Regions from separate parts of the Homo sapiens genome. Here all the other regions are reported to be linked to region 1. Evidence: microRNA targets listed by miRTarBase, many of them from high-throughput screens and not tested one by one. Region 1 holds a microRNA gene; each other region holds the end of a gene's coding sequence.

Region 1 (5,180 bases):
CGGCAATCATGTGATTAACACACACACACATAAAAAGCTTTTTAACAGCGCCCGCTCGGCCTCAGAACCGCCCGGAGAGGAGCCGCCCTGGATGGACAGAGGGACGAGGGACGAGCATCTGCCGTCGTGTCCCGGCTGCCCTGCAGTCGCCTCCAACACCCGCTGCTGCCCGCCCGCTGCCTGCCTGCCTGGCATCTCTCTCTCCCGGTGGGTCCCCACTCATCCTTCCACCCCTCAGTTCCTCCTCTTTGAGGAAAGGACCTCCCCGCTCTCTGCTGTGTCTGTGACTGGCCTGAGACCCGCCTGGGGCAGGAGGGGTGGTTGTGGAAGGAAAGAGCCCAGAGTTAGGAGGTGGAATGTGGGGTCCCACAGCTGCCCCCTCTCTAACTCCCTGCTTCCTCCTTTGCCCTCCTTGGTCCAGCTGTGCCAGGATGGGGGTGGGGGTAGCAGTGGGCACGCTCTGTCTGCAGGAAGCCACGCTAGACAGAAGGGGCCACTCCCTCTCTCTCTCCCTTGTCCCCGCACAGACACTGCCTTCCTCTCAGGGCTGTGCTGGGCTTTTTGCTGAGCAGTGTTGGGTGAGGCAGGTGGGCCTGCAGGGCGGGTGGGAAGGGCTGTCAGATGACCAGTGCTGTGTGTGTGTGGTTGGGGCCCCTGCTGCGAACACATCCCTGCCCACCATGCTGGCAACTGGGATCCCCTCCATCCCATCCCAGGCCCTGGGAACCCAGTGCTCTCCAGCAGGCAAGGGTGAAGGACCCATAGTCATTCCTGAAGAGCAGGGAGCTTGGAGAGGGGAGGGATCCTGGCTGAAGACACCTGGGCCTCTGCCCCAGCAGGACAACAGGAGGGCCAGTGTCACCTTCTCCTCCTTTCCCTGCTGGGGGTGGCAGGGGTCCCTTTACCCCCTCATTCTTGACCCTTCTCCAGGGATGCTTGTGACCTCCTTACCCCACCCCCCATCACCTCTCTGTCCTGAAGTGAGGGTTTGTCACCGTCCATGGCAAGGTGTGGTGTCTGGTAGGCTCTATGACCTGCCTTCTCTCAGGGTGTTTATTCTGCAGCAGAGAGGGGTCTGCGGTCTGAGTGTAATGGTGGAAATCCAGGCTTCCTTCCATGGCCCAAGGAGGCCTTTCCGGAGCAACAGGGTTTTCCTGGGACTCAGCCTGGCTTTTGTTAAGGCAGGTCCCGGATTTACTCAGAAGATGGGCCCCAGAGAGGAGGAGAGGAAAGGAATACCTGTCAGTCAAACGTGAAGCCCACTGATGACACTGCCTGGCAGAGCTGCCTCCGGTCAGCAGTGACCCTTCACCCCCCAGCTCCCAAGTCCTCTTCCTGAGGGAGCTGGTCCGGCTTTATGGAAGGCTCCGCCTGTGTTCCCCCACTGGGTCCCTGGTCCCTCACCTGTCACGTGGGGCGATGGTCACCCTCCCTCCCTGCCTGCCCTGAAGGATACACTGAGATGAAGGTCAGGAAATCTGCTGGCTGCAGAACCAGGGGCCATGCAGGAGTGAGGGATGGTCTGGTCAAGTTGAGGCTCTGCCCCAGCCTCAGTTTCCCCACACAGGCATGAGACTGTCTTCCTGACTTTCAGAGGACAGGGCTGAGATGGGATGAGGGAACACAGGGAAAGCGTTTAGCACCTCTGAGTGCTGTGTGGATGCGACCTGGGGGGTCCTGGCCTCCACTCTTTAATTCTATCTGGACTGTGTGCCCTCCTACCTCCAGTTTCCCTGCGGGGGCCTTTCACAGGGCCTGGCTTGCGGATACGGGGTTTGGCGTAGGGCAGTGCTTCTCAAATGGGAAGGCGCACTGGGATTCTTCAGGTTGGGGTGGGGCCTGAGGTTCTGCATTTCTAATCAGTTGCCTAGGACTGGCTCTAATTCTTGTTGAATTTACAATCACTTGTGGAGTTAAGAAAAACATACTGGGCCTTGGTTGGGTGTGGTGGCTCACACCTGTAATCCCAGCACTTTGGGAGGCCAAGGTGGGCAGATCATGAGGTCGAGAGATTGAGACCATCCTGGCCAACATGGTGAAACCTTGTCTCTACTAAAAAAAAAAAAAAAAAAAAATTAGCTGGGCATGGTGGCAGGCGCCTGTAATCCCAGCTACTTGGGAGGCTGAGGCAGGAGAATCACTTGAACCCGGGAGGTGGAGGTTGCAGTGAGCTGAGATTGCACCATTGCACTCCAGCCTGGGCAAAAAGAGCGAAACTCTGTCTCAAAAAAAAAAAAAAAAAGAAAAAAAGAAAAACATACTGAGCCAGGCGTGGTGACTCATTCCTGTAAGCCCAGCACTTTGGGAGGCCGAGGCGGGCAGATCACCTGAGGGCAGGAGTTCGAGACCAGCCTGGCCAACATGGTGAAACCCCATGTCTACTAAAAATACAAAAATTAACTGGGCATGGTGGCACGCACCTGTAATCCCAGCTACGTGGGAGCCTGAGGCAGGAGAATCACTTGAACTCAAGAGGCAGAGGTTGCAGTGAGCCGAGATCGCACCACTGCACTGCAGCCTGGGTGACAGAGTAAGACTCTGTCTCATAAAAACAAACAACAACAACAACAAAAAAACATACTGGAGCCTAGATCCCACCCCAGACTGGTTGATTCTGAATTTCTGGGGCTGAGGTACAAGCATAAAGTTCCCTGGGAGGTCTTCACAGAGTCTCTGGATCCCTGAGGCTGTGAATGACCCCCTTCCAGAGCCAAAATCACCAGGGATGGAGGAGGGGTCTTGGGTACTGGACCCACCAGCCAGGCAGGTTATACTGGGGTATCCGGAGAGCTTTGGGGTGTGGCAGGGGAGGGCCTATGCACTGGGAAGGTGGAGGGCCGACGGGCACAGGTTAGTGGTCGAGGGCAGCATAGTGACAGACAGAAGCTACCCTGTGGGTCTTCAGCCGAGTCTGAGTGCGCTGGGGTGGCTGTGGGAGCTCCCCTGAGCATTTTCTAGGCCACCTCCACCTTTGGATAAGGCTGTGTCATCCTCAGTCTCGGATGTAGTGGAAAGTGACTTGAAGTCAAGAAATCCTGCCACTAGTACCCAAGGGGCCTTAGGCAGATCACGCTATTAACCTCTCAGGACTCGGCTTTTGCATATGTACGATGTTGATAATCTTATGCACCCTTGATATCCCCAAGTGATGAGAGAATTAAATAAGAATACACACACACATCTCCCCTACCTAGCATAGTGACTGCTCAATAAATGTGAGTCAGAGGAAATCATTTAGCTATTAGGCCAGCACTGGGAGGTGTGGAGGATGCTCACCTCAGGTCAAGTGCACAAGTATTAACCGAGCAGCCACCACGGCCTCACAGTCAGGAGTTTATCATTTGCCTTTTGAATCCTAATGTCAGACCAGGTGGCATTCCTGCTTGGGATGACAAGCTCCTCTGTCATGGGTGGGCCTCCTCTGCCATGCCCCTTAACAGCGAAGGCGACACTCTAGGGCCTCCCCAGGTGCCGGCTCAGCTGTGAGGGCTCCTGTCATCGGACTTCATCCTCCCAACAACCCTCTGAGTAGATGCTATTATTCTCATTTTAGGGAGGAAACTGAGGCACAAAGCGATTCAGTGACAGGCCTGAGCTCGCCCAGCGAATGATGACAGGGTGTGGACTGGGACCTGTGGTTGGTCCCAGCCCAGCCTCTGACCACTCTGCTCTATTGCCCCTAGGCTGCAAGTGCAGCTGCAGGTTGGCCTGCTCCTGCCTCCTCTCCTTGCCTGGGCCTTTGGGCCTGCTCCACCTTCCCCTGGAGCGCTGTCCTCCCTCTGCCTGCTGGCGGTCTAGGCACTGCTGCAGCCCCACTGAGAGGTCCTCTTCCAGGACACACCTTGGGCACCTTGGTTGGAATTCTTTTCCCTATGACTTTCCCTCAGAGGAGGAGACACCTTCAGATGTGCTCTGCCTCCTTACTGAACAGCCTGGAGGACAGGCCAGTCTCCAGTTCCTATTGGGAGCCCCTGAGGCCATGCTCAGCCTCGGCTCACCTTCCCTGAGCCGAGTTGCTGTCAGAGTTCCAAGGAGGAAAAGACCAGGGAGGCTGGAGCGGGCAGGAGTGGCTTCCTGGAGGCAGAGGGTCTGAGCTCTGGGGGAGGAGGATGGCATTCCATGGCCTGTCCCAACAGGGGCTCTTGCCCCTCCCTGTTTCTGGTGCAAGCAGAGGGTCTCGGACCCAGGCCAGCAAGGCAGCTCCCGGGGTTGGAATCTTCCTTCGCTCCCAACTCCATCCTTTCTGGAAACCAGGAAGCTGGGGCCAGTGTCCAGCACTGCCTCTGGCAGCCTGGCCTCTGCTCTCTTCTGAGAAGCCTTCAGAGAAGTTGACTGCCCATTCCTGCCATCTGTCCCCAGCTGCTGGAATGCCCTTCCTGGCGTCTGCCCTGAGCCTCTCCAGCTGCTGGGAACTTCTGTGAATGTGTCCTCTGTGCAGGGCACTGGGCCAGGAGCTGGGACTGGGAGGTGAGAGAGACCAGACCTTGGCTTTGAGGAGCTGAGGGTTTGATGGGAGAGACCGATGTAGAAACCTGGAACCTGGCACGGCCAAACAGGCAGCTGGAGCTGGGCCTCTGGACCCCAAGAGCTGGGGTCAAGACCCAATGGCTGTGGAGGCCCTGTGTTGCCTTGGCAACCTTCTTCCCTCTCTGGGCCTCAGTTTCCCCATCTGTACAATGTAAAATCAGCAGGCTAGCTGATCTCTGAGAGTGTTTCCATATTTGATAACCCATGAATTGTATTTCAAAACAAGAGGCCCGTGCCTGATCCAGTGTTTGCAAGGTGATGCCTCGTGATGCCTCAGACCCTTGGTGTTCCTCAGGACACTGATAGGCATCTCTTGAAAGACATTTGGGAAACACTGCTTTCTGCTTCCTCTTTTTAGAGATGTAAGGGTGGGACGTGGTGGTTCACGCCTGTAATCCCAGTACTTTGGGAGGCCAAGGTGGGAGGATTGCTTGAGTCCAGGAGCTGGAGACCAGCCTGGACAACATAGTGAGACCCCCGTTTCCATTGTTATTATTATTACTATTATTATTTGAGACTGGCTCTGTTGCCCAGGCTGGAGTGCAGTGGCGTGATCTGGGCTCACTGCCACTTCCACCTCCTGTGCAATTCTCCTCCCTCAGCCTCCTGAGTAGGTGGGACACTACCGGCGCATGCCACCATGCCCGGCTAGT
Region 2 (5,180 bases), not on the chromosome of region 1:
TTTTTTGAGACAGTCTCGCCTTGTCACCTAGGCTGGAGTGCAATGGTGCAATCTCGGCTCACTGCTACCTCTGCCTCCTGGGTTCAAGCAATTCTTCTGCCTCAGCCTCCGGAGTAGCTGGGATTACAGGTGCATGCCACCCCACCTGGCTATTTTGTATCTTTAGTAGAGACAGGGTTTCACCATATTGGCTAGGCTGGTCTCAAACTCCTGACCTCATGATCTGCCCGCCTCGGCCTCCCAACGTGCTGGGATTACAGGTGTGAGCCATCGCACTTGACCAAAAAACAATTTTTCAAGTGCATTAAAAATACCAACTTTCTCATCAAAACCTACAAAGTAGCATGTGAAATGACATGGCATTACAAAAGTGAGAAAATTGTAGCTATAAAACAGAAAAAAAGAAGTGCTGTGATGTCATGCAAAGTTGGAAAACACGTAAGACAAACCTGAAGATAAATGGAAAATAAAACAAGCAGAATTTTGCTTTATATTCAGCAAGATTCAGGTTTGCTGCCTAAAAAAAGATCCTATCCACATAAAGAATCAATGTTTTTTCTTTGTCATTTATATTTTACATCTCTGACTTAAAGTTACAAAATAACTCTAGCAGGAATATTTACAGATTATAAAACATCTGTTACTCGGCAAGCACTGTCACGTTTTTTTGCTACATTTATATATTAAAACATCCTCATGACTTATGAAGCCTCCTTAGTACTTACCTGAATGTTATGGGAAGTCAGGGACCCTGAACAGAGGGACCGGCTGGAGCCGTGGGAGAGGAACATAAATTGTTAAGATTTCATCTTAATATGGACATTTATCAGTTCTCAAATAATACTTTTGTAATTTCTTATGCCGGTCTTTAATCTCTTAATCCTGTTATCTTCATAAACTGAGGATGTACATCACCTCAGGACCACTGTGATAATTAACTGTACAGATTGATTGTAAAACGTGTGCTTGAAAAATATGAAATCAGTGCACCTTGAAAAAGAACAGAATAGCGACTTTTATGGAACAAGGGAAGACAACCATAAGGTCTGACTGCCTGCGGGGTCGGGCAAAGAGCCATATTTTTCTTTTTGCAGAGGGCCTATAAATGGACGTGCAAGTAGGAAATATATCACCAAATTCTTTTCCTAGCAAGTAATATTAATACTCTGGGAAAAGAATGCATTCCTGGGGGAGGTCTATAAATGGCTGCTCTGGGAATGTCTGTCTTGTACAGTTCAGATAAGGACTGAGATAAGCCATGGTCTCCTGCAGAACCCTCAGGCTTACTAGGGTTGGGAAAACTCAACCCTGGTAAATTTGTGGTCAGACTGGTTCTCTGCTCTCCAACCGTTTTCAGTTGTTTATCAAGACAATACATGTACTACTGAACATACACCCTTATCAGTGGTTCTGCTTTTGCCCTTTGCCCTGTGATCTTTGTTGGACCCTTATCAGAGGTTCTGCTTTTGCCCTTTGATCTTTGTTGGAGCCTTATTAGTGGTTCTGCGTTTGCCCTTTGCCCTGTTCCCTCAGAAACGTGATCTTTGTTAGACCCTTATCAGTGGTTCTGCTTTTTGCTCTTTGAAGCATGTGATCTTTGTACCTACTCTCTGTTCTTACACCCCCTCCCCTTTTGAAACCCTTAATAAAAACTTGCTGGTCTGAGACTCAGGCGGGCATCATGGTCCTACTGATAGGTGATGTCACCCCTGGCAGCCCAGCTGTAAAATTCCTTTCTCTGTGTTATCTCTATTTCTCAGCCGGCTGACACTTATGGAAAATAGAAAGAACCTACATTGAAATATTGGGGGCGGGTTCCCCCAATACCTGAACTGGCTCAATCAACAAATAAATTTACTTCTGTCAATTATAAAAAGTGAAAGGAATAATAACTTAAATAGGCTTATATAAGGTTCTTCAATTAGAAGAACAAAATAGAATGTTTTAATTCAATAAAACAATACACTAATTGTGGAACTACATCTAAAAATTATTTTGTGTGCCCTACTAAATTTTATAAAAATAGTTTATATCTTTGACCACTTCACATAATGAAAACCTCATAAACTATAAAAGAAAAAAAATTGTAAGAAACAACAAAAAAATGTGGGCTAGGCATGAGTACCAATCAAGTAAAAACAAAATTTGCATAAGATTTTGAACCCATAAGCCATACTATTTTACAGTAATTCAGTAGAAAGAGTATAGATTTGCTTTCCGCATTTTTGAGGTTTATAGTTTTCTAGTAAATTAGTTACCTTACTAAAATGTTTTGTTCCAATATTGCTCTTTTCTTCTGAAAATAGGAACAAATTTATACTCACACAAACATGCTTACTTACTCCATAATTTTCTTACACCTAGGGTTTAACTTAAGAGTAATGTATGTATATATTTAACTTTACTAAGTCAAAACTAACAAGTCTGTATGTGTTTGCAGGCAGAGAAACAACATGTTCAAAAATACATATAACAATTTTTTTAATGCTTATTTAGGACTCAGAATGTGTGGACTTTATTTATACTTCTATATAATTTTTAGCATAACCATAAAAATAGCCCTGTAGTCAATAACAATTGTACATTAAAAAAAACTAAAACTGTAGAATTGGTTTATAATACAAAGGATAAATGCTGGAGATGATGGATACTTAATTTTTCCTGATGTAATTATTACATATTATATGTCTGTATCAAAATGTGCTATATATGGCATAAATATACACATACAATGTATCCACAAAAATTAAAAAGTATAAACTTAGATGAGAAATAAATATTTAACCTATGAGAACATTCTTTAACCTCCTTGCAGTTTAAAGTCACTGGCAAAAGGGATTACTAGAAATGTTTGTCCATTATGTTACCAAATAGTATGTTACCATCTTTTGCCTACACCAGTGAGTAAAGTGAAATAGGTTAAAGTTAATGGCATACTAACTTTATTAAATGTTTTATAAATGTTAAATAAAATTTTAATAAAATATTAAGTTCACACATAACTTAAAATTTTAAGAACGTACATTTTATTACATAAAAGTACAATTAGTAAAATAATTTACTAATTTTAACTAAAATTTAAAATGCTTTTTTCTCACTATAATGCAGAATATTACCCTGAACACCCACCTCATGTGTCACTTATATTAACAAAAAGAGCCTCTCCACTTAGATTTTTATGTGTCTTACATTTTAATGTCCTTACCCTTCCATAAAAAAGATCATAATGCCCAACTAATAAAAAAAAATTCTCCTATCTCTGATGCAACAATTAGTCACAAGTTGAATACAATAGAAATGAAGAAAACAAGAAGAGTTTTGAATTTTGAGAGTTGAATTACATTATTCATGTTGCAAATAATCTGTATTTTTTAAGGAAAAAAGTATACTTTCAATGTAATTATAACTTTTCAAAAAATTTTCTACACCTTTTAAAGTTATACACAATTTATCTAACAACTTTAGTTCTGGATTATTTTTTATACTCAGCATTCTGATTTACTGTAATGTCTGAAGTGTCAGTGCCTTAGATATTTCTGAGCTATCTGATATTTACATAGACTTAATTTTAGAATAAATATTGTTTTATATTTACTGCATCTACAAAAAAAAAAAAAAAAATATATATATATATATATATATATATATATATATAGAGAGAGAGAGAGAGAGAGAGAGAGAGAGAGAGAGAGAGAGAGAGAGAGAGAGAGAGATGGAGTTTCACACTTGTTGCCCAGGCTAGAGTGCAATGGCACGATCTTGACTCACTGCAACCTCTGCCCCTCCAGTTCAAGCGATTCTCCTGCCTCAGCCTCCTGAGTAGCTGGAATTAAAGGCACTCACCACCATGCCTTGCTAATTTTTGTATTTTTAGTAGAGACAGGGTTTCGCTATGTTGACCAGGCTGGTCTCGAACACCTGACCTCAGGTGATCCATCCACCTCGGCCTCCCAATATGCTGGGATTACAGGTGTGAGCCACTGCGCCCAGCCTGCAGAAATATATTTTAGTACTAACTCTCTGGTGTTTTCTAAAGCTATAGATTTTGAAAAAATGTGTTTTTCTAAATGTATTACATTTGCAGAGTTTTTCTCCCATACAGATTCACTGATGTTGAAAAAACTTTGAGCAACTGCTTCAGGGTTTTTCTCTAGTACAAAATGTACATGATAAGCTTTATGATACCAGTAAATGTACTACAACCCTCTTTATGTTTGTAATCTTTGTCTTCAAAACGAATACTCTTCTTCACTTTAAAGGCTTATATTTTCTTAAAGTCTTTAGACAGTAATTGCATTTATAATGCTTTTATTAAGTACCAACATTCTGATATTAAGATGTCAACAGATATTAATGGCTATTTTACACTCTTTATATTTGTACAATTTTTCTTAAGTATAAACGCTTTCCTGTGCAATAAGGTTTGAGCCTTAATTAACAGTATTGCCAAATTCTTCACACTTGTAGTTTTCTCCAGTATGAATTATCTTACATACAATGAAGTGTGAAAACCATTTAAAGTCTTTGACACATTCTTTACATTTCTAGAATTTTTCACCAGTATGATTTCCTTTATATTTAGAAAAATTTGAGGTGTTGTCAAAATCATTATCACACATTCCAGTTCTGTAGTTTCTCTCCAGTATGTATTTTTTTATGTTTAGTAAGGTTTGCAGATTGGTTAAAAGCTTTGTCACATCTCTCACATTTATAGGGTTTCTCTCCAGTATGAATTATCTTATGTTCAGTAAGTTTTGAGGATCGGCTAAAAGCTTTGCCACATTCTTCACATTTGTAGGGTTTCTCCCCAGTATGAATTCTTTTATGTGTAGTAAGGGATGAGGAGTGTTTAAAAGCTTTGCCACATTCTTCACACTTGTAGGGTATCTCTCCAGAATGAATTTTCTTATGTTCAGTAAGTTTTGAGGATTGGATAAAAGCTTTGCCACATTCTTCACATTTGTAGGGTTTCTTTCCAGTATGAAGTTTCTTATGTTCAGTAAGTTTTGAGGATCGGTTAAAAGCTTTGCCACATTCTTCACATTTGTAGGGTTTCTCTCCAGTGTGAATTCTCTTATGTGTAGTAAGGGCTGAGGAGTGTTTAAAAGCTTTGCCACATTCTTTACATTTGTAGGGTTTCTCTTCGGTATGAATTTTCCTATGTTCCGTAAGATTTGAGG
Region 3 (5,000 bases), not on the chromosome of region 1:
AAGTAGCTGGGACTACAGGCGCCCGCCACCATGCCTAGCTAATGATGTTTTTTGTATTTTCAGTAGAGAAGGGTTTTCACCATGTTGGCCAGGATGGCCTCGATCTCCTGACCTCATGATCCGCCTGCCTGGGCCTCCCAAAGTGTTGGGATTACAGGCATGAGCCACAGTGCCCGGCGAGTTTTCACTTCTATTATTGTATTTTTAGTTCCATAATTTCATTTCAGTTCATGTTTTATAACCTTTATTTCTTTGCTGAGATTTATAATTTTGTTTTCATTTGATTGCAGAAAATTTGTAAATGATCACTAAAGCATTTTAAAAAGATGTCTGCTTTAAAATCCTTTTCAGATGGATCCAACCTCTGATTCATTTCAGTTGGGGTCAGTTGATTGTCTTTCCTCATTCAAGCCATGATTTTCTTGGCTCTTGGTGTGATGATTGTATCCTGGCCCTTTTGTCTGTCATGTTATGTAATGCTAGGTGCTATTTACATCTTTGATAATTTTAGCGAGCAAGCACCTTGTTTGGGGTTGGCATGTGGGCCTTAGCCTATTTTGTGGGTGGGGGAGGAGGTTTCAATGATAGTTTGATTATTGGAGCCTTTAATGTTTTGCTTTGACATCCTCAGTGGATTTAGTGCCAAAGGAGGTTCCCACTGCTCTCTGCTGGTGCTAGCTGAGGGTGCAGAAGGGTTTACCAGGCTTCTGGTGTGTGGGGTGGGGGTGGGCTGGGGGAGATGTTGGTGAGGTGGGGTTGGAAGGATCCCTCTTCCCAGTGTCCCCTCACCTATTCTACCCCCTCTGCCTCTGTGTCTGGGATGAGGGGACTCTCCATCTCAAACCTGCAGGGACAAAGAGCCTTCTTTGGTCAGGTCACTAATGTAGCTGCACCTCTTTTGCAGGTTCTGCCTTTTTAGCTATTTTTCCTTTGAAAAGGCAGTCCTAGGCCCACAAGGAATATGGAGCCTTCCCTGGTCGCTTATTGTTGGTGTGGCTCCTGTATCCATCCCCTTTGCTGGTGGTGCAGCCTGTCTGGTAGTCAGAAGAGTACCAGTTCCATCTGGAGAAGGAATGGGCAGGGGTGGCAAACAGCAGGTCTGAGTGGCCTTCTGTTTGTGGGAGCCCACAAGTAAGTCACCCTATGCTCTGCTGTTTCTCTGGTTCTGGATCCCAAGAGGCAAGAAATTCCCAGAGTTCTCTGGTCCATAGAGGATGACCTTAGATAAAGAATTGTTGGCTGGGCGCAGTGGCTCACACCTGTAGTCCCAGCACTTTGAGAAGCCAATGCTGGTGGATCACTTGAGGTCAGGTGTTGAAGACCAGCCTGGCCCACATGTCGAAACCCGATCTGTACTAAAAATACAAAAAAAAAAGTTAGCCGGGCATAGCGGCATGTGCCTGTAATCTCCAGTTACTTGGGAGGCTGAGGCAGGAGAATTGCTTGAACCCAGGAGGTGGAGGTTGCAGTGAGCCAAGATTGCGCCACTGCACTCCAGACTGGGCGACAGAGCAAGACTCTGTCTCAAAAAAAAAATAAAAAATAATAAATAATAAAAAATAAATAGTTTAAGGATGGGATGGAAGTAAAGACACACCCCTCCATTTCACAGTAGACACTAATAGAAATAAACAACATGAAATATACAATTCCTGTTTGAGAAAAATGTCAGAACACTATATATTAAAAGTAAACCTTAACAAATGGATAGACAGCATAATCCTGGATAGCAAGACTCAGCATCACAGAGATGTCCATTCACTGGACAAAAATAAGTGTAAAATACCAAGCATAATAAGATAGATGTTCAGCACATACATTGGCCCTTACACTCTCACAGTTAAGAGAATACCATCTTCTCAAGCACATGGGGAACATTCATAAAACTACCATTATCAAAAAACCATTACCATCCCAGAACTTTTCTTACCTTGCAAAATGAAACTTTGTACCCATTAAATAACAGCTTCCTACTTCTCCCTCCCCCAGCCCGTGGTGAGCACTACTCTGCTTTCTGAACGTTAACTACTCTAGGCACATCATTAAGTGGCACCATATAGTATTTGTCTTTTTGTGATTGTCTTGTTTCACTTAGCATAATGTGTTAAATGCTCATCCATTTTGTATCGTGTCAGAATTTCCTTCCTTTTTAAAGCTGAATAATAGTCTGCTGTATGGATATACCTATTTTGCTTATCTATTCATCATCGGTCAATGGCCACTTAGGTTTTTTTCCATCTTTTGGCTGTTATGAATGCTATGAACGTGGATATACGCGTTTTTGTTCTGTCCCTGCTTTTTAAAAATAAAAATACAGATGGTCTCCAACTTCATGACAGTATAAAAGCGATACCCATTTAGTAGAAACCATACTTCAAATTTTGATTTTTTTTCCCAGGCTGGCGATATGTGGTATGATACTCTCTCGTGACATTGAGCAGTGGCAAGTGAGCTGCAGCTCCCAATCACTATGCACTCAGGAGGGTAAACAACCAACCAATACTCTACTGTGCTGATACCGAAAGTGCTGAAGCTTCTAAGCTGTGTTAATAATGCATTTGCAATGTATGATATTTTCAACTTACAATGGGCTTATCAGGATGGAACCCCATCGGTAAGTCAAGGAGCATCTGTAGTTACGATGTTTTTTTCAAGGAGCATCTGTAGTTACGATGTTTTTGAAGGGAGACTTTGAAGGAATTTTGTTAAAAATAAAATTTTTTTGAAAATACATACCTTTTGCATCAGCTGAAAGATTACAACTCAGTTTAATTGAAAGCCACCCAACAGAGAACCCAAAAGAGCAATACTATTTGCTTTAAAAAAAAGACACAAGACATAAAAGTAACCACTGTAAATTTATTATGCATTAGGAAGCTTAACCTAAAAACCAATAGCATAGTAAAAAGATATGTTATCTCTGTTCATAGCAGAACAGGTTTCAAAATATATTTTCTTTTAAATGTATTCAGTCAGTACACAATCCTTTATAAAAGTTGTATATATTTTTTTCTGTCAATACCTTCATTACATTTATAAATACAAGATTTACACAGCACCCCATCAAAAAAAAAAAATTAAAACCCTTTACAAATATCTACATATATTTCATACCTATAAAACTTTCAAAGGGGTGCTCTGTTAAAGGTGGGCCCTAGTTAATGGTCCATTTACTGGTGCAGCAAAATACATATAAATCTGTAAAGTTTTCTTTGTCCATAAAACATCTCAAAAAATAGCAAGACACTTATCGTGAAACTCAGCTTCATAAAACCTTATTTTAGAAAGGAACTTAATGTGCGTATTCCCATGCGATTCAAAAGTTAAACAGATTGAAATAAAGATGAATTGAAAACAAATGCATACTCAGAGCAGTTAAGGCAGGAGTGTGATGGATGAGAAAAACTTTGAGAAGCAGGACATGGAAGACATGGGAAGAAGCAAATCATAATAATGCCTTTGAGTCTGAACTTGGATATAAACTTCACTCGTATCCAGTTACTAACTCTCATCCTACTTAGGAATTTCCAAATTGTTAATAACTTTCTTAGAAGCAGCCTACAATCTCTATGTTGCCACCAGAATGCTTGAGTTGTTTTTTTCTTCTGTAAAATCACCTTGGACCCAACCAGGACACCAGGTCCAGGAATCTGAGTTGTTGAGTTTTACATGATTTAAGTTTGTAATGAAAATTTCTTTCATCTAGTAAAGGTAATTACTATTCAATATTATTATGTCCAGAAGTGTATATATGCTGAGTTTCATTCTAGCTAAGAATAGAAAGTAGAATAAAAGGAGACTAGGTTTTTATTTGACCTTTGAACAAAGACAGTAGATCCCTGATACTGAGTGACTCTTTAAGAGTGGCCACTCATCAACACCTATGGGCTGATTCAGAGAAACAGGAAGGTAGAAATTAAGAAGAGATTCTTTACCTGAAATCTTGCCAGAGATGGCAGTCCCGCTACTGTTCTGTGCCTTCTGCTGAAAAGGGCATGGAAAGATTGCTGCCACTCTTACTCTATAGTCATTACAGGAAAGCCATCCTTTCTACCAGAGAGATGACTTTTTCTATTTGAGTTTCACCTTGGGAGTTGCACATTATTTGCAAGGAAGTATTTCAAATCTTATCTTGTTCTAATGTATAAACAGGAAAAAAAAAAAGAATGTAAGAGAAAAAAAAAAAACAGGAGGAGGATGAGCAGAATGATGGCGGTGGTATTTATCAAACTTGGCCCTGAAGGATGCCGCTAGCGTCTCCCATCCAGCACCATGAAGTCACCAGGGGTGTGGCTCCCTCCATGGCTCTCAGAGATGGCGTATGCAGAATCCCACTTTCTGCCGAGTTTACAGCTCAGTGCACTGATTCCCAGGCTCCTCAAATGAAGAGAGCTCCCAGATGCTGCTGTCTTGCAGTAGTGGCTCAATGTCCTCATCACTGCCCCGTTCTGGGGTGTTGGTCAGGCTGCCGCTGCTGCTGTTACTGTGTTTTTGAACTCCACTGGCTTTACTGTATTCAGGAATGAATAAGGCAACCAGAAAAGACATAAGGACTATACATGCCCCAAATAAAAACGGCGGGCCTGGGATGACAGCTCCCTGTTGAACGTGGAAAACAAGTGGAGACAAAGAATACAGTTAGTCTTTTAACTCAAAATTATTCCTAGATTACCCAAAAAAAACACACCACCAAAAAGTGAATCATATTCTCATAAGCAAATGTTTCATTAAATGTCAAGGCAAACTCCACTAGAGCTTGGTGTTTGGAATATGACAAAGGGCAACTAATTAACTGCTTTTTGTACCACTTCCAAATAGCTTAAGCAAAACTGTAAGCTTGTAAGCAACAGCTGTTTACCTATAATCCCATCCTATGACTTCAGATCATGCACCTTTGTACATGAACATTAATTCCAGCTTTGTATAGATATGGCTTAGAGGGAACAAGGGAAGAAATTTCAAATAAATAGTACAAAAAGTACCCTACCTCAATTTTTAGC
Region 4 (5,180 bases), not on the chromosome of region 1:
GCCAGTTATGTGTCACATAATTGATCCTGAATTTAGCATATTTAGTCAGGAAATGGGATTTGACAATAAAATTAGACTTTCTATGCCTGTAGATTTTGAGACTTATAAAAAAGTTATCATTGGTATCATTAGATTTTAGAATGGCAGATTGGAGGAATTGAATCTACTTTTAATTGGCCAAATTCTATTATTTTTACTCAAGATTAGAGACACCTCTTTGCTCATCTAATTTTAAAATATGCTATTGTTATTGATAAGCAGTTTGATGTTTTAAACCTTTAGTCCTGAATAACCATGTGGTTATACTTTCTATAGTTTTCTATAAATGCTGTATTTACATAGGCAACTGCCATTATTAGTTGCCTAAGGGATCATTTCTGCTACTATACGGTATAGAATCAGAACTGGACTCTTAACATTGTAAATTTTTTTGTAAGTCATAAGAAAAAGTCTAGTTCTTCTGGTAGACAGAAAATAGCTGGGAAAACTGATTTACTGTTTGATATATGTGATTCTTCTTGGGTTTAGCCACCTTTCCTAATTTTCCAATATTTTATTTTCCAGTTTTGTGAGACTGTGAAGATAATTATTCGTGATCAGAGAAGTGTTCTTGCTTCAGCAGTCTTGGGATTGGCGTCTATAGTCTGTACGGGCTTGGTATCATACACTACCCTTCCTGCAATTTTTATTCCATTCTTCCTATGGATGGCTGGCTAACTTCATACCCCCATGTCAGTGTGTGTATTCTGTATGTAAATATGTTTATATTTATAGAGCATCAATCAATATAAGCATTATTGAGAAAAATGTGACCCGTAACACTGTGTTCTGGATAAAAATGTGATTAGGAATCACGCAAAGTGCTTACTGTGTAAGCCCAAGAACAAAGGCTTTCTGAATCTTCTCAGGCAGTTCAGATTTAAAGCACCATCCAAACCTTGGAAATACGACAGGGTGTGGTAGAATTCAGCAATATGAGAAAACCAGCCCCTAAAATGATAGCCACAAGAGATTAATTGTGTTTTTTTTTCTCCTGTAATCCTTGTACTGTTCGGCTGAATTTGAAGATTGGAAGACTTATATTGAGACCAGTAACTTTACTGTAAATTTACTTTGTTTCATTGAAAAAACAAATTGATAAACATATTAAACTGGAAGAATTTTCTTTATTCAAATGAAAACATGTTTGATGACTGGTCAAAAAATAAGCTCATAATCTATTTTTTTCATGTAGTATATAAGTCAAGAATGTTTTATTGTCATTATGTGAAACCAATATTGGCAAATAGTACTTTAATGATGAAGTAAATGACCAGAAATTATAGAAATCTGTGTTTTCCTGTAAAAATAGCACTATAGTATCACTTGAACAATTTGATTTGGCTTTACTTACTAGGAAGCCTGGAATTCATTATTTTTTTCCTTTTATGTGCCACTGTGGCTACTTTAAATCACTCTGAGAGGTAAATGGATATAGGATTGAAGTTATGTGGGTATTTGGCATGTGTGTGTGAAATAAATATGTAGATAGTCACATATACACAGACTGAGAGATAAATTGTTCTTGATTGCTTTATTATCATCATACTAGTGTGTTCATTATAGAGTATCTGTAGAGGTGAATGTAAAAGTAAGTCCAATCTATTTTCTTATGTCATTGAATTTGTAGTGTTAACTTGCATATATGTTATTGGATGGGTTGTCTTTTAAAGCATTTACTAATGTACTCTGAAATTTTTAAAAGCCTTCAGATTTGTTTTCTAGTCACTTTTTTCCATATCATTTCTAATTATAGTTTATATCCTTAAAAGAAGGATGCCACAGTAGTATGTAAAACCCAAACAAGTAGAACCCAAGCAAATAAAATTATTTAAAATAATTTTAAAGTGGCTTAGTACTGCCAGTCATGTAAATTGATTCTGCTGAGGGTCTTATAAGAATTGAGATATAACAATGGTAAAACAAGCATTCAAGCACTTTTACAAAATTACCAAATTCTTAAAATGAAGCCACAGCTAGACTTGCATTTCAGGTATTAAAATTGCTTTCTTAACTGTCAAGAATCACAAAATAACAAATCATATTATGAGTGAATATGGGGAGGGCGGGGCCAATCAGTCAATGATAATCTGAACAAATTTTAAGAGCAGATTTTAGATTAATAATGTTTTATCACCACTAATTTGCCCACAACAAACTCAGTATTTAATTTTTCAAATTAAATATTAAATTATTTAAGTATTTTAAATAATTAAAACATTAAATGGCAACACCATAGAATATAGGTGTTCTCTGGACCTATTCTAACCACTTAAAATTATCTTAAGTATGCATACATAAAAGCAACCACTATGAGAACTACCGTGTTAGTGGTTTTTCACTTACTGTATATTACCCTTGTAGGAATAGTTTAAGGAAATTCATTTCTTAAAAATATAGTGTCCTCAAATAATTAATTTTTTTGCAAACTTTAGTTATTACAGGCAGCAAAAACCACTGTCTGAAACTAAATCTGTGTTCAAAGATGAAGACCCCTCATTAAAAGCCAAGGACGTTCTTAAGATTGGAACTGACATAATTAGTCTTGACTTACTTCATTAAAGCAAGATTCAATTCCTTGTTCATTTGAGTGTTCATTATATGCCAGGCATTGACCAGTTGCAATTTTATGGTCCAGAATTAATATTATTATTCGTAAACTAGCTATAATAGAGTATATACAGTGCTGTGGGAATACAGGGGAAGAAGCAATTAAATCTGCTAGAAGGGTAAGAGAAATCTGTATGCAGGAGGCAATGCTAGCATTAAGCCAAGAAATAGTGTGAGGTGATCTTATCACACTGATGTGTTCAACTGTTTATGGGAAAAGGAAACTAGGATGGTTTTATTTGTGAAATGTTCTACAACGCTAGAACTGTTGAACTTCTTGGGAGAAAAGGAGAATCTTTGTTTTGTTGTGCTGAGTTTGATTAGTTGCTTAACCAAGTAGAAAGAAAAGCACATCTTCCTGATCACAGTTATAAAAGAAACCCTGAGGCCGGGCGCGGTGGCTCAAGCCTGTAACCCCAGCACTTTGGGAGGCCAAGGAGGGAGGATCACAAGGTCAGGAGATCGAGACCATCCTGGCTAACACGGTGAAACCCCATCTCTACTAAAAATACAAAATTAGCTGGGCGTGGTGGCCGGCGCCTGTAGTCCCAGCTACTCATGAGGTTGAGGCAGGAGAATGGCGTGAACCGAGGAGGCGGAGCTTGCAGTGAGTGGAAATTGCGCCACTGCACTCCAGCCTGGGCAACAAAGTGAGACTCCATCTCAAAAAAAAAAAAAAAAAAAAAAAAAAAAAAAGAAGAAGAAACCCTGAGCCATTAATGTGTCTCGTAACTTGAGGAAGTTCATGAATTCTCTGGGCTTCATCCATTAAGATTCATCCTTATGCTCCTGCAAGTTTCTTATATTTATGTATTTCTATTCTGATTTCTGAAATGATAACCTAGTAGTGTCTGATGAAGTTTTTTCATGCTTATTTTATTCTTTGTCACAGATGAAAGAAGAATAGGACTAATTGGGGCTAAGATGAATTAATGTAAGTGTCAGATACTAGGCAGGTGTTAGGGATGAAATGATGAATGAGGCATGGACCTGTTCCTCAGAGTTTATGGCCCAGTAGACATAATTGTATTAGGACTTTCTGCAGTTGACATTTGCATAAAGCTGACTGACTGAAGGAACAGAAAGTGAGACAGACAGATATGACCAAATTTATACAAACCATGTACCAACACTTGAAAGATGGGTGGATATTTTCCAGGAAACAGATTTTGGGCAGGACATTCCATGCACTGGAAATAGCATGAACAAATGCATGAAAATTGCCTACAACATGCCTGGCACATAGCTGTGAGGTACCCTATGAGTTGTTGACTTGAAAACATGGAACTGCACAGGGCATTCAGGCAAGTGCAAGTGGTTCAGGGGCCAGCGCAGAGCAGAGTGCTGAGTAAAGATGTCAGAAAAGGAAAGCAATGGTCTGGTACAAGTCTTGTATAGAACAAGAAGTTTAGACTTTTGAACAGGCAATCGAGATTTGGGGTTCAGAAAGATAAATCCCAAAAGTATGGAGAACAAAGGAACTCATTTTAAAGGACTAGCTAAGATGCTCAATCTCTAAAAAAAAAAGGATCTGTATTCGTGAGAGTAGAGAGAAAGGTTGTTTAGGAAGAGTCAACAGACTTTAGCAAAATCCTTTTATTTGATTCATGCATAACTCCTGATGGAGTGTCAAGGAAGACTCATTCACTTTTCTTTCCTGCCAGAAAGTTGGTTCTTGCAAAATAGATTAACTTGATGACTATGTGTATATTGGATACTCCTAATTTTAGCTCTGTTAGATATGTTTCTTTCTAAGGACAAGCAACTATGTATAGACTTGTTGTTTGAATTTTTTTTCAGTATATATATGTTTCTTGTTTTTCTATTTTTCTACTTCATACTGTTAATGTCAAATATCAAAAATGTTTTCCAGCAATATCAAGTTATGGCAATGGCAAAAGTCCTTGTTGTAGATGAGAAGCATATAAGAAATGGTTGCCAATCTTTGTTTTGTATGATCTATTTAGAGTTTTAACCAACCTAGATCTGTCAGCTAAGCTAATTTTATATTTGGTATACATGCATGTCAAATAAAGTTAATTTTACATACTATTCTCTCTTTAAATTTTAAATACATAAATGTAGATCACAAACTTTTTTTTTCAGCGTGGTAGCCTGAAGAATTTTGTCTTTCCAATCTTCCTTTACAGATTACCAAACTTAGTTTTATGCATTTGAAGTTAAAACTTTATGTGGATCTGTCTTCAGACTGATAATATCTATGTTATCCATATCTTGAAGCCTACCTTGATTGTGTAGGAATAGGTTCTGTGTAATATTAAATAACATATCCCTTCTCCATTGCACAAAATTAAGTAACAATGACAACAAATAATTAGTCATAATATGAACTCTATACAGTTGACCCTTGGGCAAAACAAGTTTTGTTTGTTTTTGTTTTTGAGACAGGGTCTCTCTTTGTCTTACAGGCTGCAGTGTAGGGACACAATCCTAGCTCACTGTAATCTCAAACTCCTGGTCTCAAGCGTTCCTCCTGCCTCAGCCTCCTAAGTAGCTGGGACTACAGGTGC
Region 5 (5,000 bases), not on the chromosome of region 1:
CCTTTACTCTTACGTTTGTATTGTACCATTGTAGGTGGTCTCAGTGGTGTGCTAGTAAATGTTTAACAGACAGCTCTCTAGAGCCCTGACTTGTAGTGTCTGCCAATTTCCATGGTGTAAATACTCCCATTGTGGCCAATTTCAAGCTACCAATCTGATGTCACTGAATGAGGAATTAGAAAGAAATGTGCACAATTAGTTCTTATCACAGTGCAAGCCAGCTCCAGCCACCCCTACCAATTTTCCCAGTGGAATTCCTAAATACAAATCTCTACCTCAGTCTTTTTTCAGGGTAACCTAAACTAAATCAACAGAAAACCATCAATTATTTTCATATTATTTTTATTTATTTTAAAACTAACATTTTACAGGCACAATAAAGTGAAATTGGTCGTTTCAAATGTTTCAGTGAAACATACATTTCTCTCTGTCCTTCTCACACACACAAAGACACATGCACACACACACACACACACATGCACACCCCACGTACATCAGGACACCATAAGACAATGTCCCGCAATAATTACCTAAAAATATTTAAAATACAGACTCTTTAATTTTCTAAACATTATGCAGCTGAGTAGGGCATTCTAAAGAACAGACTTCAAATTGTTCTTACTGTTTTGAGACCAGGAAACATTGCCAAGAATTCACCAGATGCTGTTCTTAATTGCTGTTGTTACAATTGTTATTATTGCTATAAATCAAAATGTATATTTAAGAGTTAATGTTTCATCATCATCGGAACTTAGGTTTTTAAATCAGAGTAGGCCATTTATAACATTTGCTATCTCTGAAGAAAAATACAAAAGAATATTGTTCGTTTGAAGAACTGTTAAGACTTTTACCCTACTGAAGAGCTGTTGTTGGAATAAATAATCAGAGGTTGAAGGTTGTTTTTTAAAGAGCAGGAAAAGAAAACAGAAGAAAGATACTACATTCAGGCCGGGCACGGTGGCTCACGCCTGTAATCCCAGCACTTTGGGAGGCCGAGGTGGGAGGATCACCTAAGGTCAGGAGTTCGAGACCAGCCTGACCAACAGGGAAAAACCTTGTCTCTACTAAAAATAGAAAATTAGCCATGCTTGGTGGCACATGCCTGTAAACTCAGCTCCTCAGGAGGCTGAGGCAGGAGAATCGCTTGAACCCGGGAGGTGGAGGTTGCAATGAGCCGAGATCTTGCCATTGCACTATAGCCTGGGCAACAAGAAGAACAAAACTCTGTCTCAAAAAAAAAAAAAAAAAGAAAGAAAGAAAAGAAAGATACCACATTCAAAGCAAATGGGCATCTTATAGGGAATGATACAGAAAACTGAAGAAGGCATAATTTTACCCAAATGAATCGCAGATGGTTCTTCAATATTGGATCAATTTTTGTAGAAAGAGAAGTTACTTGGAAAATGGGAACAAAATGTCCCAATGAGAAGAGAAGGTTGACTGTGGAATAAATTAATTTTACCAGTATATATACACTTAATTATGAACAAGAGAATCAGAACAAGGTTCCTGCTATTAGAGTCAATTGGTTTATCAAATTAGAGTTTGAATAATGTTCTTAAATTTTGGCATAGATTAGAATCACGCAGGAAGGCTGGTTAAAAATGTAGATTCCTGGGCACTACAACTATTATGTTTCAGTAAAGGTCTGGTGTAGGGCCTAGGGGTATGGATTTTAGCCAGCTTCCTAGTAAATTCCAAAGCCTGTCGTCTCTGTAAAATCAAAGCATGCTGAAAGGCAATATGGTTAAACGTCCATGACACCATCGTTTCATAATGAGATTAGGAATAAGTCTATGCCATTTCCTTATTATACAGAGATAGCCTCCTTACAAATATCATCTGGAACCTTTATCTTCTGCTTTCCTGAGGTCATTTTCAAGAACATCTTCCATTTATTTCTCAACCAACCAGATTTTCATAGTTGCTTACTCCGTAAAGGAAAAATGCATATGTGTATGTGTGTGTGCATGTGTGTAAATGTGAACAGAAGGGCTGAGTGCGCATAACATTATAGAAAATTCTCTTTTCCAACAGATCTAACCAAAGACACATTTTTGGCTCTGATATAATTAGAGCTAAGGTCGGGGCGGTGATGTAGAGGGTAATGGTTGATGATATAATTATCAAGACTCAATAATCAAATAATTTTAATCATGAATTAAAATCATGAATTAAAATCATGAACTTATTAGCCTAGCATTTGAGAGCTTTTTCTTAAAAAAATTAAAAATCTCATTATTCACAATCACCCTCCTAATTAACCTTATTCTATATGACATATACTCTAATATTATTGGCCCTGTGGAGCTTGGGCACCTTCTAATGCACTGTGGAAGCATTCTACTTGGATTATACCTGTATATCAACAGTTGTTCTCATACCTGTATATTCAACATGGACTCTCTAACAGAAACAGGTCCTTTTGTTTTGTACATTGCAGTGTAATAAATTGCCCCTGTACTCTTGAATCTTGATGAAAAGAGACTAACTTCCTCCCTGCCTTCCATGCTGGGTAGGTAAGTAGTTTCCCACAATGAATTAGACCCAATATCCTCCATGAAAGTAATAATAGTGGACATTCCTGCTCATGAAGACACATGTCTAGGGGCTTAAAACTTGAAGTGTAGATGTGAAGGTGTGTGTAAACATCACAGACAGATCCAGAAAGAAAGGAAGATGTTTATTGCTTTCCATACCTTGTGGAAGGACTAGATATCTCGCTGTCTTTTTGACCTCCTGTTTCCTTTATAGAACGCAAGGCATTTATGCATTTTGGACAATTCATTTAAATGCACATATTCAAGATAAGAACAGTATGTCTCCCTTTCTTTGCATATTTATGACACATTTTATTTGCACAAATAATACTGCATCAGTTTCATTGAGAAAAGTTGGAATTTTGTTATCAAAATCATTGGATGGGAAACTGCATTTTCAGAACCCACTTCTTTTCCTCTTTCACTAACGGTATTCCTTACAACTTGTAAACATTCATGAAGAACTCTATCATTGTGATCCATTTTTAAACCAATGCACCCACTTGGAGTTATAATTTCCCCATAAAAACTTTCCATGCTGATCACTTTTTTTCCTTTAATACGCTTTGAGCATCAGGGCACACTGCTCCATCCATCGCAGGCGCTGCGGGTGGAGTTTCTATCTCAGTGCACAGCATGAAAGCTTGGGTCCATCTGTGCCACACAAAACCAAGCCTCTCTTGAAGTGATTTGTTTACAGTGTCATTTGATGGAGTGGAATGTTCTGCAACTCATTCGAACTGTTACAGAAGCTTTGCTAAAAGGTCACCACTGCTCTCTAGAATTTCCAAATCTGGGCACCCTCTGGGAGCTTGTTAAAGATAAGGTTCTCCATGGGCTTTTTCCATACAAACTAGATCAGATTAACAAGAGGCTACTTTTCCATAGAGGTTTGTGTTCATGTTGAGAAGGAGAGCAAGAAAGAGAGAACACAAGTAAATTACAGTTAGTTACCTCAAAGTGTGCAAGCCCACTTTCTCCCAATTCAGAGGGCATGTAACAAGTGATAGTACAATTTAATAGGCCTAAACAAGTGTGTTGGTCTTGAAAAAGTCAGAATTTGCTTTTAAATGTCCTTCTTGAATCAATGCATTCTTCAAATATAGTCTTGGGAGTCGATTCTAAAGGACACTGAATTTCACCATTTACTCAAAATTCAATAGGAAAATGACAACTAATTCCTTAAGGTAATAGAGGCTGTGCAGGGTAAGCATTCACCGTGCACTGCACCAACAAGGTTCAAATTGTTGTAACTACCATTTTAGTCTAGACCTAAAAGTGTCTTGTGCTTGCTTTCTGCCCCTTTTCTTATGAAACAAACATCTTGAATTTTCCAAACCTCAAAAGCTCAGCTGTAAAACTGTAGGAGACCAGCAAGAGGAAAAGGAAAATTTCCTTCAAAGACGTCTCTAGTCGCAGTTGATCAGTTCTGCTTTCCCCCTCGAAACATTAACTATGTCTTTTGACACTTGTCTGTGAAAAACGTCCAAATGTGACAAATGGTAGAAACAACATTTCTTTACCCTCCTGCCTGGAACTTCCCATGATACAGATGAGATCTAGCTGATGCTTTTATGAGTGGAACAAGGAAGGTGGCTACTGTCCACCACACTCACTTACATCTGCAGATGGAATAAGTAAACACATAGTGAACTTACTGAATAAAAATTTTAAATTCTCTCATTTGCATTTGGTTGGAATCCCTGAAAGGGTCTGCACAGTAGCAGCTAAAACACAGGCTTATTGCCATTAAAAATATTCTCAGAAGTGTGTGTGTGTGTGTGTGTGTATTTCTAGTAGAATACTTGGAAGAAGAGAGACTTAAATCTGGAATCATGTTTTTGTCTCTGCAGTCCAAGCTGGAGACATTAAAAACAACAACGTCTCCCTCAGTTCAATCAAGCTGGTCTGGGAACCAAAATTGTCCTGAGGAAGGGGGAGAAATCCATTTATATTCCTTGTGAGGCAAGGAGGGAGGTCTTTCTCGCAAAGTCTTTATGTGTCATTCAGGACCAGGAAACTTAATCTTCGAGTTCAAAGCTCGTCTCATCATAGAGCTCAGGACGTGCTGACTTCTTGTGCCGGGAATATTTCAGTTGCAAGAGATCACCCATTTCATCAAGAGCTTCTAAAACCTGCAATGAGATTGCTTTCCAATAGCTATCATTGAACACCTAAGTAGCCCTGCTTTGCAGAGCCCAGATTAATAGCAAGCCTCACAAAGACACACAGTCTTAGTTTGCTAGCTTCTTTGATTTTAAAGAAAAGAAGCAAGATCCGTACCATTAGGTTGTGGTTTAAGACCCTAGAGGAATGTTAGATGCTAATTAATTTTATTTAGTGGTCTAACTCCATACTATGAATGTTTATTTTATTTTGAGAGTGTGAAGAGAAGAATAAAAACATGTGACCCATGCTTACCCTTAAAAGGTTTTATTTTAAAATGTAGTGACTTATATG

What was found. Region 1 holds the annotated microRNA hsa-miR-4534 (GGAUGGAGGAGGGGUCU, at 2,724-2,740, shown strand). A microRNA usually pairs through its seed, bases 2 to 8, with sites in the 3' UTR of a target mRNA and lowers its output. Matches are read on the target gene's strand: a 7mer-m8 pairs with bases 2 to 8, a 7mer-A1 pairs with bases 2 to 7 and ends in A, and an 8mer does both.
Region 2: the mRNA of ZNF675 is a reported target of hsa-miR-4534. The part of its 3' UTR that is shown has no 7-base or 8-base seed match.
Region 3: miRTarBase lists SLC71A2 as a target of hsa-miR-4534. Seed matches in the 3' UTR shown: 7mer-A1 at 3,390-3,396.
Region 4: the mRNA of LRAT is a reported target of hsa-miR-4534. Seed matches in the 3' UTR shown: 7mer-m8 at 3,306-3,312.
Region 5: the mRNA of SPTLC3 is a reported target of hsa-miR-4534. Seed matches in the 3' UTR shown: 8mer at 3,248-3,255.

Annotation. Positions count from the first base shown.
Region 1 is chr22:37,986,106-37,991,285 of GRCh38, forward strand. MIR4534 (microRNA 4534) reads left to right here and starts at 2,689; the gene lies at 2,689-2,748. It also overlaps a transcript of POLR2F not described here. RefSeq lists an enhancer at 1-345.
Region 2 is chr19:23,648,615-23,653,794 of GRCh38, forward strand. ZNF675 (zinc finger protein 675) reads right to left here. Exons shown (of 4, transcript NM_138330.3): 4 at 4,187-5,180. The coding sequence ends at 4,612. Among named protein-coding and RNA genes, the nearest start is that of ZNF675, 36 kb to the right of the region's middle.
Region 3 is chr9:94,458,760-94,463,759 of GRCh38, reverse strand. It overlaps SLC71A2 (solute carrier family 71 member 2), which reads right to left. Exons shown (of 12, transcript NM_032558.3): 12 at 2,718-4,599. The coding sequence ends at 4,348. Among named protein-coding and RNA genes, the nearest start is that of SLC71A2, 87 kb to the right of the region's middle.
Region 4 is chr4:154,748,420-154,753,599 of GRCh38, forward strand. It overlaps LRAT (lecithin retinol acyltransferase), which reads left to right. Exons shown (of 3, transcript NM_004744.5): 3 at 565-4,701. The coding sequence ends at 717. Among named protein-coding and RNA genes, the nearest start is that of LRAT, 7.0 kb to the left of the region's middle.
Region 5 is chr20:13,164,429-13,169,428 of GRCh38, reverse strand. It overlaps SPTLC3 (serine palmitoyltransferase long chain base subunit 3), which reads right to left. Exons shown (of 12, transcript NM_018327.4): 12 at 326-4,675. The coding sequence ends at 4,562. It also overlaps a transcript of TASP1 not described here. Among named protein-coding and RNA genes, the nearest start is that of ISM1, 54 kb to the left of the region's middle.